4 linked regions of the Homo sapiens genome follow. The protein of the gene in region 2 purifies or fractionates together with the protein of the main gene of each other region. This does not show direct contact. Each region holds a gene or a part of one and is shown on either strand. Other genes may lie near its edges.

What was found. Proteins that work in one complex are often made in the same cells at the same time.
Region 1: the proteins of NRXN1 (region 2) and MEAK7 purify together in Homo sapiens (affinity purification with mass spectrometry, with the first as the bait; one large-scale study listed by BioGRID). This does not show direct contact.
Region 3: the proteins of NRXN1 (region 2) and RAI14 purify together in Homo sapiens (affinity purification with mass spectrometry, with the first as the bait; one large-scale study listed by BioGRID). This does not show direct contact.
Region 4: the proteins of NRXN1 (region 2) and PALS1 purify together in Homo sapiens (affinity purification with mass spectrometry, with the first as the bait; one large-scale study listed by BioGRID). This does not show direct contact.

The regions. Positions count from the first base shown.
Region 1 is NC_000016.10:84,480,660-84,484,159, forward strand, and holds part of MEAK7 (MTOR-associated protein MEAK7), read right to left. Parts: intron 2,052-3,500; coding exon 1,933-2,051; intron 50-1,932; coding exon 1-49. UniProt on the Homo sapiens protein: Activates an alternative mTOR signaling through RPS6KB2 activation and EIF4EBP1 repression to regulate cell proliferation and migration. Recruits MTOR at the lysosome, essential for MTOR signaling at the lysosome.
Region 2 is NC_000002.12:51,029,333-51,033,299, reverse strand, and holds the start of NRXN1 (neurexin-1 isoform alpha4 precursor), read left to right. Parts: upstream 1-1,167; 5' UTR 1,168-1,319; intron 1,320-3,967.
Region 3 is NC_000005.10:34,827,328-34,830,219, forward strand, and holds part of RAI14 (ankycorbin), read left to right. Parts: intron 1-2,404; coding exon 2,405-2,470; intron 2,471-2,892. UniProt on the Homo sapiens protein: Plays a role in actin regulation at the ectoplasmic specialization, a type of cell junction specific to testis. Important for establishment of sperm polarity and normal spermatid adhesion.
Region 4 is NC_000014.9:67,300,435-67,303,934, forward strand, and holds part of PALS1 (protein PALS1), read left to right. Parts: intron 1-954; coding exon 955-1,032; intron 1,033-1,537; coding exon 1,538-1,684; intron 1,685-1,975; coding exon 1,976-2,137; intron 2,138-3,087; coding exon 3,088-3,165; intron 3,166-3,500. UniProt on the Homo sapiens protein: Plays a role in tight junction biogenesis and in the establishment of cell polarity in epithelial cells.

The sequences.
Region 1 (3,500 bases), on a different chromosome or scaffold from region 2:
AATCAACATCCACCCAAAGCCCAAAGTAATTGTGCTGCCCCCCCATACCCTGCAAAGGAAGCCAGGACAGAGAATAGCATCAGCAACTCCTCAGGGTCTGTGGACATCAAATACCACAAGCCAGCCTCTCGCCTTAAGTACCAGCCTGAGACAGGGGCGGGTGAGTGGTGAATGCCATCATCTTGTTTTCCTTAACTGTGAAATATATCAATTACTGCCATTTAAGCATCCCATGCCAAGTTACTAGAACAGTCATCTATGTCTCCAGACACCCACCCCATGGCTCTTTCTCAAGAAGATTTGCTGGCTGAAAGCACAAGTGACATCAGAGAATTAAAAATGTTAAATATATATAGAGAAAGAGACCTCCAGGGCCCAGGGCCCCGCCCAGTTAAGATAAGGGGAGAGGTGAACACAGAAGCTGACACTGCAAACCCCCTGTGTTGGGGCCCCAGTGCCCCGCTTCCGGGCAGCGATCCTCACCCCAAGACAGGCTGGGAAACTCAGCTCCGAGTGTGTGGCTTACAGGATGCGGAGGCAGACCCGGAGGCGGATGCGAACCCCTGTGCCTTCCACCCTCAGTCACATGGCTGGGCTCTGAGCTGTTCAATCTCACCCTGCAGAGAACCTCCTCTGGTCCCTGGTAGGCCTGTAACACCTGGCACGCCCTAGTTCTGACCTTGGGCAACCAGAGACCCGAGCACACTGCCCAGAGTTGACACGCGGAGCCGCTCTCTCAGGGCCAATGACGAGCGATGACCGGGGCCTGCCGGGTGCTGCCTGTGAGGCTGGCACCCTCACTCCTGCCGCCACCAGACCGCCCTTTCCAGAAGGTGCCAGGTGTTCTAGGTGGCCTGGCCACGCCCCTCCCTCTCTCCAGGGCAGCAGTGTGGTAAGCCTGGGAAGGACGCTGGTCCCTATATCGGACCAGCCTTCTCTGCCCTCAGCTCTGCAGAAACAGGGCTGGATTTTCCCAATAAGAGCTTTCTGTCAGCTGGGCGCAGTGGCTCACGCCTGTAATCCCAGCACTTTAGGAGGCCAAGGCGGGTGGATCACGAGGTCAGGAGATGGAGACCATCCTGGCTAACATGGTGAAACCCCGTCTCTACTAAAAATACAAAAAAATTAGCCAGGCGTGATAGCGGGTGCCTGTGGTCCCAGCTACTTGGGAGGCTGAGGCAGGAGAATGGCGTGAACCTGGGAGGCGGAGCTTGCAGTGAGCCGAGATCGCGCCACTGCACTCCAGCCTGGACAAGAGTGGACTCCATCTCAAAAAGAAAAAAAAGAAAAGAAAAGAGCTTTCTGTCAAGCAGCAGAGGAAAGAAATCAGCAGGGGAGCTGGCAGGAGCAAGCTGAGCTTCGGCGTGGATGCTGCCCCAACTCCTGCCCTCGGGCCTGCCTGGACCCGTGCCCACCCACTCCCTGCACCCGGCCTAGGCCTCCCCCGCTTCCCCCTGCTTCCTGTGCCATGTCACCAAGCTGAAGCGAGGGCTGGACAGGAGCCACGGTCACCCCAACTGGGGCCCCACATGCTGTCTCATGAGCTGCCGGCCGTCCATTCCCCTTGGTCCAGCACTCCCACGTATGAGGCAGGCCAGCGACGCGCAGGGACAGGTCTGGCGCTGACACCATCCCTAGCCACAAAGGCTACAAACCAATCATCTGAGGGCCAGAAAAATGGGCCAAGTGTGCCATCTGCACACAAACCACTGAGAAGCCCCAGCAGAGGCCACATCCTTCTCTAAGGGAAACCCTGGCCCAGCTGTCACTGCCCCCAGCACCGGCCCTGGAAACAGAAGGAACTGGACATGGCGTGCGTGAGGAACTGAATGCCACGCGCCCTGCCCTGATCTGTGGAGCTGAGCCTCGGGGTTGACACCTTTGCTGGGGGACATCACCAAGGCAAGACCACCACGCTCTGCCCGGGCTCACCAGTCCGTTCGGGATCGTCTGCTGTCCATGGTTCAAGTACATGTAGTGGTCGTTGTAGCCCGTGTGTGTGTACACAGCCATGCTGGGGCAGATGGAGAACAGGAAGCATCTGTTGTCCCCTGAAAGTAGCCAGAGAACAAAACAAACAGGGTCGGTGTCTGAGCCGGTCCCACAGGGCCGGAAATGCCGGTAAGCTGCAGCTCAGGAAGCAACAGGGCCAAGACCCTTCTCACCCATGTCCAGGTGTCGGCAGATCAGGGTTTGGGACAAGCTGCTAGGGACCCAGGTGGATGAGCTGGGGATGCAGGGATTAGAGGGACAGCTAATAAGGAATGGGACATCTTTTAGCTCTGGCCAGGGGAGCAGAGATCAGAACTCTGCCCACTGTCTGCTGGAATCAGTTCAGGCTGGCCAAGCACATCCGAGCCAGAAAGAGCAGGCTTCCTTTAGCTTATGAGCACGGGGCAGGTGGTCACTCCGCAGAGACTGAGGCCTCCAGCACAGCCTACCTGAGCAGGCAAGTGACGCTGCGTAGTGCTGACCCCGGCCTGAAAGAACGTACCATGCAGAGAGAGAAAACCTGCAGCTGCAGAGCTGTCCCCAGGGGCACGGCCTACGAAAGGAAGTAGTTTACCCTCGCCCAAAGGCATGGGGTGGGCACACAGGCCATTAAAAGAAAGGTACCAGTCAAAACTCTGGAAACTATGGGTCCCCAGTCTCAGAGACTCCTCCACTCCATAAGCACCTCAGCACTGGGGACAGGGCCGTAGGCCAGGCCTCGTCCTCGGAGCTCCCAGCGAGGGACACTTCCCACCATGTTCTGAGGACTTGGCCGGAAGGGCTGCCCGCCTCGACACCAGCATACACAACTGTCACAACAAGCTGGAAGGCTGCAGAGAAACAAGCTCATGGGAATTTGGGGTTGGGCTATTCATCAGGTGGGAAAGAAGTCACAGGAAGCAAATTGGGGGCACCATGATGGAACGCAGATAAGAAGGGGGCACCAAGACCAGGAGGCTGGAAGAGGACGATGGCCCCGAGCAAGCCAACAGGGCTCAGTCTGTAGAGTGTGGGCTGACACCGCCCAAGGCTCCAATCTAGAAAGATCGCTGGGGGGCCTCTGCCATCAGGGTCTGGGAGGCTTCTGGGAGGCAGCTTCCGAGGTCAAGAGGGAGGCCCTGAAACAGAGCTGGCTGGGGCAAGAGTCCCCATGGAGAAGGGATCCCATGAGGACAAGGTGTGGGACAGGTACGGAACAGTGGGGCTTGAGAGCATCGGGTGGAGGAAGGAGGATAGTTAGGCTAGAAAGTTCCACTGGAACCAGCTAAGTGAAGGGCTTTACTCTGGGCTACAGACTCAGGCTTGCTTCACTGGGTTTCAGCAGCCCCAGAGGCTTGAGGGCAGGTTTAGACGCCGCCATGAACAGCTGGGTCACACCCGTCTGCACTGCCCCCGCCCCGCTCTCCCCGACTGGACTTCAGGTAAGCGGCCCTTTGCTTTGCAATCCTGAGCCCGTCTTGCTGCGGAGCAAGGTCGCAGGGCCACAGAGTTCAGGCCTCAGCTGCGAT
Region 2 (3,967 bases):
CCATAGGGTGCAAACCATAATTTAAAGCCACAGACCCCGAACTCCTCTACCACCTAATCTGTAAGCTCCCTTAGATTTAACCCCTTTCTCACCAAACCCAGCAATGCCTATTGGGCATGCCCAGTTGCATGGTTAGAGCCTCACACCCAGTTTTACTTTCACCAGGTTTTACCAGCTGCAAAAGGGAGGAGGAGACGGAGGGAAGAGTTAAACAGGTAGAAAACTTGGTTCAAGACAGAGCACAGAAGGCTGGAGAATGACGACAGGCTGCAGTAAAAAGCACCTTGTCAGACACAGTTGATCGTCGTCTGCAAGTTGGCATCTTACCCTGGTGGGTTCCTTTTACATCTTTTTGGCACAGCCTAGGCAAGTCATGAAGATTTGTTGTGATTACCCAAGGCAGAGCCACAGTAAGGGGTGGGGCAAGGGACATCGGATCTAGAAGAATGCCAGTGCCTGTGTGAGTCTTGCTTGCCCCTGCATTCCTCGAAAAGCTGCAGCTTCTTTTCAAGGGTTCCGAGCAGGAGACCAAGGTGCACAAGTAAAGCCAGAGCTCATCATAATTATCGACTCCTTGGCCCCTTCTCTTTGACTGCTGGACCCTTTCCTGGCACCCTCTCAGGTATCCCCGCCCAATCACTACCAAACCCCGGAGAAGTGGAATCTCCATACAGCTTTCCATGGGTCTAGCAGGGGCCTGGGCATGCTCAGTAGGCTACGTGGTTCTCTGGTTCGTGTTCGTTCGTTCTCTCTCTCTCTCTCTCTCTCTCTCTCTCTCTCTCTCTCTCTTTCTTTCTTTCCGATGGGGAAGAGAGGGTGGTGACAAGTTAGAAGCGCTTGCGGAAGGTCCCCGCCCCCAGGATCAGGCTCCCCCTGCAAGGGGACGATGCAAAGGTAAAAGCACCTCGCTCCGCAGCATCCAGACCTGGAGGGGCTGCGACCACGGGCCGAGCCCACCCATTCCCCAGCCAAAGGACGGGCCCGCCGCTCTCCATGGTACTGCGGAGAGCTCAGCTCCGCCCTTCTCTTTCAGAAGGACAGCACCCGGCGTCACGTAACCCAGCCTTCTCAGGCTCCACCACCGCCTTTTCCTTCCCAGCTCTTTCCCTCTCCTCCCCCTCCTCCTCCTTCTCCTCCTCCTCCTCCTCCTGCTCCCCTCCGTTGCCTGTTCTCCCCTCCCGCACTCCTGGAGATAGACGCTCAAGCCTGACGCCTCTGAAAAGGCAGCAGCAGTCGCCTTATCCATAGACCTCAGGAAATTCGCTTTGACCGATGCATGCTTCAGGCTCTGGCTCGAGCTGAGGGGAATAACCGGGCAGGTAAAGAAGCTCAATTTGGGTTGGGGGGAGGGGATGGGGCGAGGCAAGCTGAAGAAGGATATCTTTCCCCATTGTAACTGAGCCAGGATCTGCCACAAATACACAGGGAAAGATGGGTGGTGGGAGGGTGGAGGAGTGTAGATCTTGGTTGTTTTGCATGAAGCCTTTTAAATAGATGGCAAGAAGAGATGGTGGAACTGGGGTAGTAACTTAAAGGCTGAATGCAGTGATGTATTAGCAAAAGAAAGAAAATAAGAGACAGGCTAGATATCAAAGCAATAAAATATCTCTCCATATATTTCCTTCCCTACCTCATCAGCCCCACACTGTGCCCATCGTTAATTTGTGCAGTAGACCCCGAGCTCCAAGAAACTGCACTGGTATTAGAGATGGAGCTTAGAGACTGGGCGGGAAAGCCAGAGAGAATTTTGGCTGTGCATTGGTATTGAGAGACTTTGCAAAAGCCAGGGGTGAAATAATAAGCACTTCTAAAATTTCTCTCAGAGATTTCATGTTCTTTATGAAGATATATATATATATTGAAGGGTGCATGGAAAGGTGTAGGTGTGTATGTGTGTGTGATATCAGAAACATTAAAATATGCAACTGCAGCCGATGAGCGTACTGTATTGATCCTCCTAGTGACTTGGGATGAATTTGATTCTAGAAATGAAAGAAAAGATTAATGATGCTGTTAGTCTGCTTTTGAATTAGAGCGCTTCTTCTTTTGGCTGCAGTAAGGATGTTTTTCAGATCCCTTTATTTCATCCTCTAATTTGTGAACTGGCCAGGTCTTTCTGGCACCTAGAGAGAATCCTCTTTTCTCCATATAAATACAGATACTCGCTCACATACAATGAGCTTCCTCCAAGAACTGGGAAAACCAGTTAACCTCCCTGTGATAAGAATGTATATATATCTATATGTACATATATATTGCTCTACGGTTTTTCTCTCTTCCACCATCCCTTAAAATTGTCAAGGTGTGCATTAGTGGAGGAGGGCAGGAGGGACGGGAGAAAAAAGGTTATGTGATCAATGTAACATTAATTAATACAATAATTGGCTCCAACAGAGTTACACACACAAGAAAAAAAAAAAGGTTTTCTAACACATGAGCTTGAGAAAGGGTTCAAAGCACTACTCTTGATCATGATATTCCAGATTTATTTTGCAAATGACTGAAAATTTAGCAGATTCCTGAGTCCACTTAAAATATGAAAGTATACTGAATAATATGCTATTTCAGATGATTTGACGAGCCTCTTTCCTCGGGTTTGATATAGGAGAAGACAAGATATGACTGGTGATTGCTGATGGTGTGGAATGTATCAGCCATAATAAATAAGCAACTGAGATTTTTATTTCCTTTTGCTAGTGGGCAGTGTGTATGTGCGCACACCCACACTGTGTGTGTGTGTGTGTGTGTGTGTGTGTGTGTGTGTTGAAAGAGAGAGAACCAGTCATCAATTTCATCTGGGAGGAACTTGAAGTGGGATACCCTAGCTTGGTGGCTCTCAGCTGACACCTGTGGGGATTGCTCTGTACTGAAGAGAAATGCTCTCAGCTCCCCCCATGGAGAAGCAGCAGCACAATGCGGTGCCATAAATTACTGCTAGTTTCAGCTTGTAAGGGAAAAAAAGTGTTAATTGGGTAGTGAGCTTCTACATCCAGACAATAAATTTGGGGTGTGTGTGTGCATGTGTGTATGGTGTATATATATTGCAGTGTGTGTGTTTGCAAGAGGTGGGGAATATAAGAAATAGTGAGAAAAATAATGCACTTCCTTGACATGAACAGATTATACATTTGTAATTTTTTTCAAAAGGTAAGAGTAATTTTTTGGTTAAAAAATGACTTAGGAAAAAAATCAGTGATTATGATTTCTGTACCATTTCAAGAACCTGTCAGATTAGAGTTGAATAAAGAGAAGTGATTTAATAGTATAGTGAGTGATTCAAAGGTACGGTTTTAAATTCTAGCATCCTGGAGCCACTGCAGCTGAGATGACATACATGCCAACAGCTCTTCTGACCACACAAATTGTGAGGGCTGACAGCAAGATACAGACTTCAGGAGGAGTTAGATCTACACTTTTAGGCAAAATATTAAATACTTTATGCACCTTTAGAGAAGTTAATATTAGGGCAATTGAGACAATGCCAAAAACATAAATCTGGCTCCAATTAGTGGTTTTCTTTTACAACAGATTATTCATTAATATAAAGGAGAACTATACTTGTGTGAAATTTTGCAAGAGACTATCAAGAAACCATCAATATTCCTTCTAAGAAAAATAAAATGGCAGGAATGCTATACAAGTCTAAGCTGGCAGCTTCCTGCCAACAGTTTAATCTAATTTGCCAATTGTAAAATCTCTTAACTGAGATTTGAATAGGTTGTATTTTTACTGTCCACAGAACAAGCACACAACATAGGTAGAAATCCTTAAAAGCATTTGTTCTCCCCTCACATATTTTAAAAATTAAACTATCTTGCGAAAAGAAAAAGATAACCATAATCAAATTTCTCTTTAAAACTTCGGGTTACCAACTAACAGTTATAATAAACTACAAGGGTGTCATGGCTGACTGTAAAAGTGTCATATTAACTATTAGAAAATGTTAGGACTTACTTGTAGTGAGGAT
Region 3 (2,892 bases), on a different chromosome or scaffold from region 2:
GCCTTTTGCCATATAAAGTTTAACATTCACAGGTTCTGGGGATTAGGATGTGGACATCTTTCAAGAGCCATTATTTAGCTTACCACAATATCTGTTAAGGTTTGAGTTGGCATGGGTACATTCCGTTTTCTACCTAAAGTCCAGGGTTAGTCTGTCCTGGACTGTCTCTAGCTTCCATATACAAACAGAACATGGATTTGATGATTTCTTCGGAATAGACCTAACTGTAGTGAATTCAGGTTTCTGCAGTCCTTACTCTGGCTGGCCACAAAGTTCAATGCTAGCTTTGGAGGAAACAGCTCTAGAAATGGTGGATACTTAGGAGAAGCTGCTCTTTACTGTGTTCTGCAGGTCATTCTTCTCCTGATAAAATGGTATTACAGACTTGTAGATAAAGTGCTATTGGTTTATACAGTAATTCTTATAATTACGCAACATGTGTTTGTTGAGCTCTTACATCAGTATTATACATGGGGCTGATGATATAAAATGAGTAAGACTCAGTCCCTGCCCTCAAGGAGTTTATACTCTATATAAGTTATCAGCAAAGAGATGCCCAGCATACCGTGGGCATACAAAGGAAATGTGTCTACCCAATCTTGCTGAGTCATGAAAAGGTTCCTACGGGAGTTACACTTGTGCTGAGTCTTGAAGGCCTGAGTAAGAATATGTTGTTACTTAGCAAGGACTGACATATGGCACTAGCTGGCTTTTGGGAACCTTGGTGAGAACCATTCCAGTGGAGTGGGGAGGAGGGTAGAATCTGGACCGCAGTAGACTGGCTGCTAGAGAAGTAAGTAAGTAGATAGGTATCTGGTGGGGCTAACCAGTCGCAGTAGGGGTTGGGGGAAGCCTGAAGCAAGCTTGCTGGAAAGATGGGAAGTGGTGGTTAGGGTGTGGGATGCTTTCAGTTGAGATTTCAGAGGTGGTAATGATAGAGGCAGGGCTACAACCATGACAGGAGTTGCTGAACTGAAGAGGAGCATGTTATTAAAGCTGAAGTTGAGGAACTGAGAGGTCCAGGTGTTAGATGGATCATTCACACAGATATCAAAGCCAAGCGAATGATGACAGAGGCAGTGATAGAAAGGAAGCCAGATCAGAAGATAAAATCATAAATAATTGAGTAGAGGTTGCTGAAAGGTGGGGAGGGAACAACACAGAGAAATGCCAAATGTGCCTTCTTATGATGTGAACTTAAAGGACGGGTTTTAAAATGTCCCTTAATAACAGGAAAGATACCTCATACTCTGACACTGATGGGGGGAAGGAAGAATGGGTATTATGGACTTTTGTACATTTTTGAAGTAATCCATATATGATGGTCTCAATTTTCATGATGAATTAGGAGGACAGGTTCTTAGAACAAGAGTTTCAGAGATAAGACCCTTGAAACAGCCACTGAGAGGAACTGGAGTAATAGCTCAACAAGGAGAAATAGAAGCATCAGCGGCTGTATTGAGGAACCACTGGAGATTGGGGCCACCACCCTCTTTGCCTTCTTAGTACACTGATAGCTAAATAATTGAGCTCCCCAAGGATTATACAATGCTGGCCATATAGTGGGTAATCAATAATTCCCTTAAAAATAATAGGCTTTAAAAATTAAATTAGTACATATTTGGTCATTGTAGAAAAGTTGAAAAATAAAGAAAACTCTAACAAGTTCCTATAAATAAAAATTTTCCATAATTCAATAACTCTGAGATAATCACTTTTTACATTTGATATATTTCCTTGCAGTATTTACATTTAATGTAGCTGTATTTGCATAAGTATATGTACATATATACACACACATATATACATATATACACACATATATAGACACACATACACACACACACACATACACACACACATATATATATATATTTTGAGACAGAGTTTTGCTCTGTCACCCACGCTGGAGTGCAGTGGCGTGATCTCGGCTCACTACAACCTCTGCCTCCTAGGTTCAAGCGATTCTCTTGCCTCAGCCTCCTGAGTAGCTGGGATTACAGGTACTGACTACTACGCCTGGCTAATTTTTGTATTTTTAGTAGAGACGGGGTTTCACCATGTTGTCCAGGCTGGTCTCAAACTCCTGACCTCAAGTGATCCACCCACCTCAGCCGCCCAAAGAGCATATATTTTTAAAACCAAATGTGGGGTGATAATAACTCCTTTTTATACAGTTTTTTCTAGAGTTGACATACCAAGACTTTTTTCCCTAAGATGATTGACAAGTATTCAGAAATACACAAGCCAGTAAGGCCACAACAATTTTAGAAGCTTCCAGTGCTAGCATAAAGTGGAGGGGACCACTTGGGTAGCATTTGGCTGCAGCTTTCTCATAGTTTTTTGTTTTTGTTCTTTAAAGATCTCTTAAGCTCATTAATAATGTGAAATATTCCCTTTCTAGGAATGCAAGAAACAACACCAGGAGGTCATATCAGTTTACAGAATGCATCTTCTGTATGCTGTGCAGGTATGGTTATGCCCCTTGAAGTATCTGGACATCCTAAAGAAATACGGCAGCAGATGTTGACAGAACTCCCATCATTTAACTAGGAGAATGAACAAGAATTAGAGGAGAATCCTTTTCACTGGAAAGCCTGAATATGCCTTTTGCATTGCTTTGGATTCTGTGTCAGGAGCCTTGTGCCCTGTTTACCAGGAACAGCCCCATCTTTTAAAGCAGGGCCTCACTCTGTCATGCAGGCTGGAGTGTAATGGCATAATCTCGCCTCACTGCAGCCTCGACCCACGGGCTCAAGTGATCCTCCCACCTTAGCCTCCCAAGTAGGTGGGATTACAGGTACCCACCACCGTACCTGGCAAATTTTTGTATTTTTGTAGAGATGGGGCTTTGCCATGTTGCCCAGGCTGGTCTCAAACTCCTGAGCTCAA
Region 4 (3,500 bases), on a different chromosome or scaffold from region 2:
CTCATGCCTCAGCCTCTTGAGTAGCTGGAATTACAGGCACACGCCACCACGCCTGGCTAATTTTTGTATTTTTAGTAGAGACAGTATTTTGCCATGTTGGCCAGGCTGGTCTCGAACTCCTGACCTCAAGTGATCTGCCTGCTTTGGCTTCCCAAAGTGCTGGGATTACTGGTGTGAGCCATTGTATCTGGCCTGTTTTAAGATTTTCTTAATCAGTCTTTGAAGCACCATAAATAGTAGGTGCCATTCTAAAGATAAGGAAACAGGCTAAAAAAATTTATAACCAAGGGGAGTTTATCCTAGGAAGACAAAGATTTCTCGACTGTGGGAAATTTAATGTAATCCATTATATTATGGTGATTGTTCCATTACACTCATATAAATTCATCTTGTTAGACTGTCAGTCTTTTTTTTTAATTATATAAAAAAATTTATAAAATAGAGACAGGGTCTCACTGTGTTGCCCAGGCTGGTCTCAAACTCCTGGGCTTAAGCAATCCGCTTGCCTCAGCCTCTCAAAGTGCTGGGATTACAGGTGTGAGCCACTGCACCCAGCCTGACTATAACTCTTTAAGTTGTCATCTCTGATTTTAAATAGTCACATAAATGATTTAAAAACTATAAAATAGCAAGGTAACTGTTAGGACAGTTTTTCTTTTCTTATGTAATTATTATTAATGAATTTTATGGTATGTTGGGTGAAACGTTCAAGATGGAAGTATTTTGTCTATAGGCGTAAGTACCAAAATATTATTTAGTGTTTTTTTAATAAGAAATACTGTTGTTTTATCCATAATAACAAGATTGAAAACTCTAATAATTCTTTTTAGTGATTTTATTTCTTACAAGTATTTTTATTATTTTAATTTGTACTTAAAAAATATGACCCTGCATACAGGTGCTACTGATACTTCCTATAATCTAGGAAGAATAATCTTTATTTTTGTTTCTTAGGTACAAACTGTTTTGAAGCCAGTTCATCATAAGGAAGGACAAGAACTAACTGCTTTGCTGAATACTCCACATATTCAGGTAGAAAATGGACAGAATACTATATATGTGGTTTTTCCAGCATTCTTCTATTTTTTTAAATCAAAGACTCCAGTACTGGAAGAGATGTCAAACATTCTCTAGCCTATTTTGATGTTTACAACCCCATCTATAACATAGTAGTTATTGTTGGATTATATATTTTCAGATTTAAAATGAACCAAATTATTTTTGAAACAACTTTTTCTTTAAAAATTAGGCAAAAATTCTTCCCCCCTTTGGTTGTATTTTCTGTAAGTTTAATTATCTAGGGTGTGTAGACCTTTACATTGATGTTATCTTCCGAAGTTTAGTAAGCATTTTAGACTTTCATAACCCATTCCAGAGTATGCCCTTAGTATACTTAACACATCTTTATTATTAGCTCTAATTAATTATAACACTTTTAAAGATTTAATGGTCAGAATACTATGTACATAGGTTAAAAATCACTCTGCAGAAATAAATCATGCTGTTACTTAAAATGCCATGGATTTCTTTGAAACAGGCACTTTTACTGGCCCACGATAAGGTTGCTGAGCAGGAAATGCAGCTAGAGCCCATTACAGATGAGAGAGTTTATGAAAGTATTGGCCAGTATGGAGGAGAAACTGTAAAAATAGTTCGTATAGAAAAGGCTCGTGATATTCCGTTGGTAAGTGTCCCACATACTGTTTTTAAACAAGTGCATTTTTCTGCTGTTGTGTGCTTCAAAAGTCTGGTTAATTTCAGAATTCTAATGAATAGAGTATTTCTGAAGCAGAAAGTGTGGGGGAAATGGTCAACTTTTAAATCTAATTACAATTACTCTAGTTGTGTAAATAAATTTTTTCTTAAGATAACTGAAGGTTAGTATTGTTGAATGGAAAAAATAGAATTTAAAAATAAATGCTTAACAAAAATTGTATTATTTTTATTTTTAAATTATACATATATATATTTTTAGGGTGCTACAGTTCGTAATGAAATGGACTCTGTCATCATTAGCCGGATAGTAAAAGGGGGTGCTGCAGAGAAAAGTGGTCTGTTGCATGAAGGAGATGAAGTTCTAGAGATTAATGGCATTGAAATTCGGGGGAAAGATGTCAATGAGGTTTTTGACTTGTTGGTAAGTTGACGCAGCTAGAAGAATAATTGATAGCTTTTAGAAAGCTCTTATTAGACTTTAGAATAAAATATTTTTAAAATAACTGTTAAGAGCACTAGATGATTTCTAGCCTGATTTTTCCATGATGTAACTGTTCCACAGTATTTGTTAGCAGTTTTATTTTTGGGTGGTACCACTGATATTTTTTTACTTTCTGATGTATCACTATCACATATATTTTATTTTTCTGGAATCAGTAATATAACTCATTAATTCACTCAGTACATATTTATTGAGTGCCTAATATGCACTAGCCACTTGGGAAACAGTAACAAAACAAAGTCTGTGTCCTGATGATTTTTTGTGTTCTTTTATTTTATTATCTGTAATTGATTGTTGTTTTCCTAATAATATTAGATAATAACAGTGCTATAGATCTGCAGTGTCCGGCATAATAATCACTAGCTGCATATAGCTATTTCTGTTTAAATTAAGTAAAATTTAAAATTCAGTTCCTTATTCGCACTAGCTGCATTTCAAGTGCTGAGAAGCAGTATGTAGCTAATGGCTACCATTATTAAGATACAGAAATAGCACATTTCCATCATTGGAGAAAGTTCTATTGGATAGTGCTAGTATAATCAGAAAATCATTTCTAGACATCTTTTGAGTGCAATTTATGATCACTTTGTACACACGCACAGACTAGATTTATGGTCCTAGTTATTCAGCATCTGTTATTACAGTGGAATCTGTACTATCTACTGATTCTGTTGTAAAATCTAGAGACATCTTCACACACTTATTTTCATCCAGCCCCATTCATTGCTTTGGTAGAGCAAAGTGCTGCTGGTCATTTAAGTCTGTGGAGGGGTTCTGAAATAGTCCAGTTTAGGGAATATAGATCATAAAATCATGGAATGATTTTCATAAATGCAAATTTAAAAAATAACCTGATCTTTCTATTACAGTCTGATATGCATGGTACTTTGACTTTTGTCCTGATTCCCAGTCAACAGATCAAGCCGCCTCCTGCCAAGGAAACAGTAGTAAGTGATTTTTAAATGTTCATTATTTATGTGTTTGTGGATGCTGTTTACTTCTGTTACTGTTTACTGTTACAGAAATGTCACTGTTTCCTGTACTCAAATAAATTCAATCATTTTTATTTAAATAAATATGAAATATCAATGTTTTAAATTAGTAAACTCTGCACCTTTTTTTTTGGAAGGTGGAAGATGGAATCTCCATCTGTTGCCCAGGGTAGAGTGCAGTGGTGTGATCTTGGCTCACTGCAACCTATGCCTTCCAGGTTCAAATGATTCTCCCACCTCAGCCTCTTGAGTAGCTGGGATTCCAGGCGCATGCCACCACACCCAGCTGA